Linked DNA regions of Homo sapiens: region 2 is linked to region 1. Evidence: fine-mapped expression QTL. A gene starts in region 1. The other region holds a variant in brackets. All regions are shown on one strand. Distances are between the middles of the regions. Region 1 holds the start of ICE2 (interactor of little elongation complex ELL subunit 2). Region 2 overlaps ANXA2 (annexin A2).

The links.
Region 2: its variant is fine-mapped to the expression of ICE2 in whole blood (INTERVAL, PIP above 0.99).

What each region holds. Positions count from the first base shown.
Region 1 is chr15:60,477,914-60,480,821 of GRCh38, reverse strand. ICE2 (interactor of little elongation complex ELL subunit 2) reads left to right here and starts at 1,680. Exons shown (of 16, transcript NM_024611.6): 1 at 1,680-1,819; 2 at 2,753-2,885. The coding sequence starts at 2,845. RORA-AS1 (RORA antisense RNA 1) reads right to left here and starts at 1,644. Exons shown (of 6, transcript NR_120342.1): 1 at 1,424-1,644. RefSeq lists enhancers at 1,879-2,406, 2,729-2,848.
Region 2 is chr15:60,381,087-60,383,994 of GRCh38, reverse strand. It overlaps ANXA2 (annexin A2), which reads left to right. Exons shown (of 13, transcript NM_004039.3): 3 at 1,554-1,653. Among named protein-coding and RNA genes, the nearest start is that of ANXA2, 15 kb to the left of the region's middle. The variant TCCTTCCTC/C (reference allele first, on the strand shown) is at 1,917.

The DNA of each region.
Region 1 (2,908 bases):
ATTCTAAATCAGTCTAAAATGTCAGCCAGGGGTAGTGGCTCACACCTGTAATCCCAGCACTTAGGGAGGCCAAGGTGGGCAGATCACTTGAGGTCAAGAGTTAAAGATCACCCTGGCAAACCCCATCTCTACTAAAAAAAAAATACAAAAATTAGCCAAGTGTGGTGGCATGCACTTGTAGTCCCAGCTACTAGGGAGACTGACGCAGGAGAATCGCTTGAACCCAGGTGGCAGAAGTTGCAGTGAGCTGAGATCACACCACTGCACTCCAGTCTGGGAGACTCTGTCTTAAAATAAAATGTAGAACATGCTTCCCTAATAGCACACACTAGATTCTGTTTATGCAATAAGTTTATGCAGTTCCTTGTATTAAAAAAAATTATAGGAGGCCATTGTTTAGAACTTCTGCACTAGACCCCAAGAGACCAGACTAAAATAAAAATGGTATCACTCAGGCTCACCACACCGAAACTGAGTTATGTGGCCCTCCAAGAAATCAGGAGACAGAGGTAACAGGCCAGTTTCAATTTTCAATCAGCAAGATAATGAATTTCCTCTGTTTTAGTCCCTACAGCAAAGAGTAACTTGAAGTAACCTGATGTTAACCAATCAGTTATCTTTCTATTGTACTGTCTGTCTCCACCTTACCAGGAAAGTAACTTTGAAATGATCAATCTGCTTTTTGTTCTTTGTTTCTACTTTCTACAGACCTTTTTTCTGTCCGTAATGCCAACCTCCTCTGTTCCACTCATTGGGACACTCATTCCATTTTATGGAATGAAGTGTTGCCTGATTCCAGAATCGCAATAAGGCCAACTGAGATCTTTAGATGTGTCAAATTTTTGTCTTTTGACACTTGTGCTGGTCTGTCTAGAACGCCCTTTCTCTTCATTCCACATACCCACATTCTTCAAATGAGCTCACACGGCAGGTGCTCAGTGCAGCAACTGACATGTAAGTACTCAATACTATTCAAAACTGCGTTTTGTCCCTCACACTAGCTATTCCTCTCCCTCTAACCTCAATCTATACACCTTTCTTATGTAGTTTATTACTTTCTATTGTATTTAATGTAAATGTCTTAGATTGCCAGAGATCCAAAGCACTGGAAAAATCAGTATTCAGTCTTAGTCCATGTGTACCCAGCACCAAGCACAAAGTACTCTGTTTACGGTCAATAAATCTTTCCGTAATGGATGAGAACAAAACTAGTGTTTGAACTCACAGCTAAAACTGGATGGGGAGTGGAGCGGAGGTGAAGGAGCACTTAATGAGGCCCTACTATGTGCCAGGTACTGTGCAGAGCACAGCTTCTTCCTTTGTTTCATTTAATCCTTTCCAAAAAACCGTATGATGCAGCAGTAACAATTTCATCTCCATTTTACATATGAGGAGTTTGGGTTACGGAAGTCAGGAAACTTGCCTGAGGTCACAACCAAGTATGTTTGGGTCTTTCCAGTACCGCACTTGTCGCTTGTCCGCCTTCCAATTTATCACTCCCCTCCTCTCCCCGACGAAGGTCGAGGACTTTCTAGGAAAACACGCAGTCTCCAACCACTTCCGCCTGGCGAGCCCAGTCTCGCACTTCGCTGCCAGAACCACAGCGAGCGCTTGTGGCGGGAGGAAAGGAGGGGAGCAGCCGTCAAGACGCAAGGCCCCGCCCACTATGTCGCTGAGACGTCATCACGCAGGGCCGAGTCGGCGCGGCCACATCCTTTAAATATGGTCTTTTTTGGGCGCGCGCGACAATGTGAGGAGTGGGGTGGAGCGTGTGTGGTGTGTGGCTGCGGCCTGGGCAAGAGCCGCCGCGGACCATGAGGTGGGCGGAAAGGCTGTGTTGCAGCCCAGACGCGGACGGGAGGGCGCTGCCGGGCCAGCGGGCGTGCTCATGCAGGGGCGGGAGGAGGGAACATGGCGGCCGGGCCAGGACCCTTTGCTCCTGGCTCTGCGCGGCTCCTACCCCTGCTTTGCTTGCCCTTTTACCTGCTTTTCTGGAACCTTGTTTCCCCTCTCTTTGCGTCCCCTTTCCCTCAGCCGTTTCTTTTGCCTTCCTCGACTATTCCCCCCCAGCTCCACACTGGGTCGAAGTGTGAGAGGTAGATTAAGTGGGAGCCGGTCGGGCCCGTTCGGTGTCGAGAGACCGACTCCTAAATTTGATTAGGTTCTCGCAGGTCACTTTATCAGTCTGCCTGGGGTCACAGGAGAAGTACTGAACATGAGAGATCAAGCCTGATTTGTAGTCCTGATGATGTCTGTAAGTGATCTTGTGAAATGTCACTTAAGTTGACCTCAAGTCTTCTCAAATGTGAGGTTCTTTGTGAAAGGCCTAAGATTCCTGATATCGAGGTAGCTTTTGTCATAAAGTGCCTGCCAGAATCTGCCCCATAACAAAGCATGGTCGGGAAAACAAAAGATTTATTTTGGCAGTAAGGGAATGGAAAACTGAGTTGACTTCCCGTTCCATGCCATCAAGTGGCCTAGTATGTAAGCAATGAGAACACCGTTCTGTTTCAGCTCTTATTTCCATAGTGAGTGTCCTGAGAGTAACACTCCCGGCGTAGATTAAATGGAAAAGGGCTCGTCCTGTATCGTCATTGCTGCTCTGCTACAAAGAACCTTGGGTCTGCTGTATTCTGTTTTAGGTGCCACAGTCTGTTGAGGGTAGATGTTTAGGGAGAGATTCTTCCTCACCTAATAGCACCTGGCCTAGCCAATCACTTGCTTTTGATCTTGGCCTTTTGTTTTTACTCAGCTGAGTAAGTTCTGGAGGGATCCTGCCTCTTGGAGCCTTCGCAGCCAGGCAGCTGTGAACTGTGAGCTAGAGTGAAGCAGAAATCTAGGAAGATGAGCTCCAAGATGGTCATAAGTGAACCAGGACTGAATTGGTGAGTTGTAGCCACTTTGTAAT
Region 2 (2,908 bases), 97 kb after region 1:
GATAGTCCTCACAAGTGCGTTTGGAAACATTTGTCAAATGCTGAACTTAGATTTCTGGCCTCTCCTGGGAGTCATCTAGATATAGGAAGGCATCTTAGATGCTCACCTATACAGTCTCAGTGCTAATAAAATGGAATGGCGTGGGTGCTGGGTGGTTTATAATGTGATGCCTGTGGGTGGAGAAGTAACTCACGGATCTTGGCCTTTTCACTCTTCACAGAAACTGCGCCAAGGCCAAGTCATCACATTATACGGGCATTATGTGCTGGGGGGGTTGGGGTGGGTTGCAGGATGGGAGCCTTGATGATGAGGATGGGCAGTGATGCTGCCTCCACCAGCCATCAGCCAACCACAACCACAATGTACATCCTCTTTGTCTGCCCTTAGCTTTGGGACTGGGTAGCAGGGAGAGGGAAAACTATAAGAGCATTTCAAAGAAGGAGGGAAGTTAATACCTTGAAAGGAGAACTGACGTAGAAGCACTCCATTGTCCTTACCTCAATCTGGAATGGGAGATTCCCATCTGTCAGATCAGGAAGGATAATGAGCTTTGAAAAGCACTGAAAGGCTGGGCGTGAGCCACCACGCCTGTAATCCCAGCACTTTGGGAGGCCAAGATGGGAGGATCACTAGAGCCCAGGAGTTCAAGAGCAGCCTGGGCAACACGGCGAAATCCTGTCTCTACAAAAAATATGAAAAAATTAGCCCGGTGTGGTGGCAGGTGCCTGTAATCCCAGATACTCAGGAGGCTGATGTGGGAGGATCATCTGAGCCCAGGAGGTTGAGGCTGCACTGAGCCATGATCACACCATTGCATTCCAGCATGGGCAACAGAGTGAGACCCTACCTAAGAAAAGAAAGAAAAGAAAAGAAAAGCATTGGGAAAGGAAGAGGGTATGGTTTAGAAGGCAATAAGAAATCTTAGGAAGAGTGGAGGGTGGTAGGCACAAGGGATGGTATTAATAAAGGCAGAGGGAAGGATACAGAGGAGAGGGGGGGAAACACAAGGAGGATGTGGGCCGTCTGGCCAGACCACCTTGGTGCCACAGTGGTGACCAAAGTAAAGAGGTGGGAGAAGCTGCTTCCCTCATTTATCTGAATTGTAAGCTCAGCAACACTGGCCCAGTAGAAATTCATGTACCTGTAGCAGAAACTTAGCTAAACACCCTTGTCCTTGAGGCATTTCCACATTTTCAGCTTATTTCGAATTGTTGCCAGCCCAGTTTAATGGTCTTCAGAGCCATCCTGAGTAAATGCTGGCTTCAGGTCTCCAGCTTTGCATTGTCTACTTTTGATCTCTCACTAAAAGTAAGATGAGAAGTTGAAATTGAGACAGCATATTCTAAACTAGCTGAGCCTTTGAAGAATTCTTATTAGAAAAAATGAAATTGCTTGCGTGAAGTGTGATGGTGTGTTAATACCTACCTAGTTACCTAGTATGAGAATGATCTGAATTGTTAAAAGAAACAATAGGAAAACATATTAGGCATTGTTATTTCAACAAGAGGATTTTAAATGTGTGTCATTTGAGTATGTTTATCTTTTAACCTCAGCACTCTACACCCCCAAGTGCATATGGGTCTGTCAAAGCCTATACTAACTTTGATGCTGAGCGGGATGCTTTGAACATTGAAACAGCCATCAAGACCAAAGGTAGGTGATACATTTGTCCTCTTCTTGTCAGGGTCTTACTGAGACATTTTTGGTTGTCTCTTTATTCTCCCTCAAATCGCCATACGTTGGCGATTTGAAATTGTCATCGAGCTTTAATGGAGTAGATCCAGACCTAGCTCAACCCATGCCTCCTTTCCTTCCTTCCCTCCTTCCTTTCTTTCTTTTTCCTTTTCTCCTTCCCTCCCTTCTCCCTTTCTTCCTTCTCTCCCTCTTTCTCTTTCTCCCTTCTTCCTGCTCTTCCT[TCCTTCCTC/C]CCTCCCTCCCTCCCTCCCCTCCCTTCTTTCCTTTCCTCCCTCCCTTCCATTCTTTCCTCCCCCACCCCCCGTTTCTTCTCTTTGGAGAGATGTACAGCATGAGATAGTATTTTAACCAAGTAATGGTTAAAAGGAATCAGTCTGGGAGCCGGATCTGGTCCTAGGGGTATGCTTTTGGGTGCAGCTCTTCACTTTGAGGCTTCAGTCCCTCTTCTGCAAGGAAGAAGTTGGTCATAGTGGTCCCTAAGGGCATTTTTTGTTCCAAGTCCCCTTTAATTTAATTACATTTGCTGGGAAAATCTTACTGCATTGCTCTTAGATTGATCTAGAGAGTGAAAAATTCAGACTTTTTTTGTTTTTTTTAAACCCCGGTAAGTTCTGCTGCTCCTTAGGCCTGGAGCTGGAATTAGAAGAGCTGTCAGAATGAGTGTATTTCCTCAAGTTCTAGGATGAGTAAGAGAAGACCAGGAGGCGTAAAAGCCTTCCTCTTGAAATAAAGCAAATAAAGTGCTAACTGGTTAGGGTTGAGCAAGAGCTTCTTATGGTCATTATATTGTTTTCTGGGTCTACAAAATAGGATGTTCAGACTTTCTGGGCTTATATTAATTAAGCAATCCTTGGGGTTGTCCCATCCCCTGAATCCCTGAAAAATATTGCAGCTCTCGTGGTGACTTTTGTGATTCTCCACTTTTCCCCCCTTGGATAAAGCACTTCCTTTCACCATGAGGCCAGATTGGGATGCAGACGTGACCCAGCACAATTAGAGCTGCTGCTGGTTCGTGCCCCTGGTGAAGAGCCATGTCACATTTTTCTCTTCTATGTACAGCGTTTTAACTTACTGACACACTTATATAGTTCACATACGGTTCGTTGAAAGACTGAGAAACCTCAACCAGGCTGACCTGGGAACCTATAACTAGGATGACGTCCTGGTTTATGCCTGCGTATTTACTAATAGTGCACCTTTCACTCTCAGAACTGTC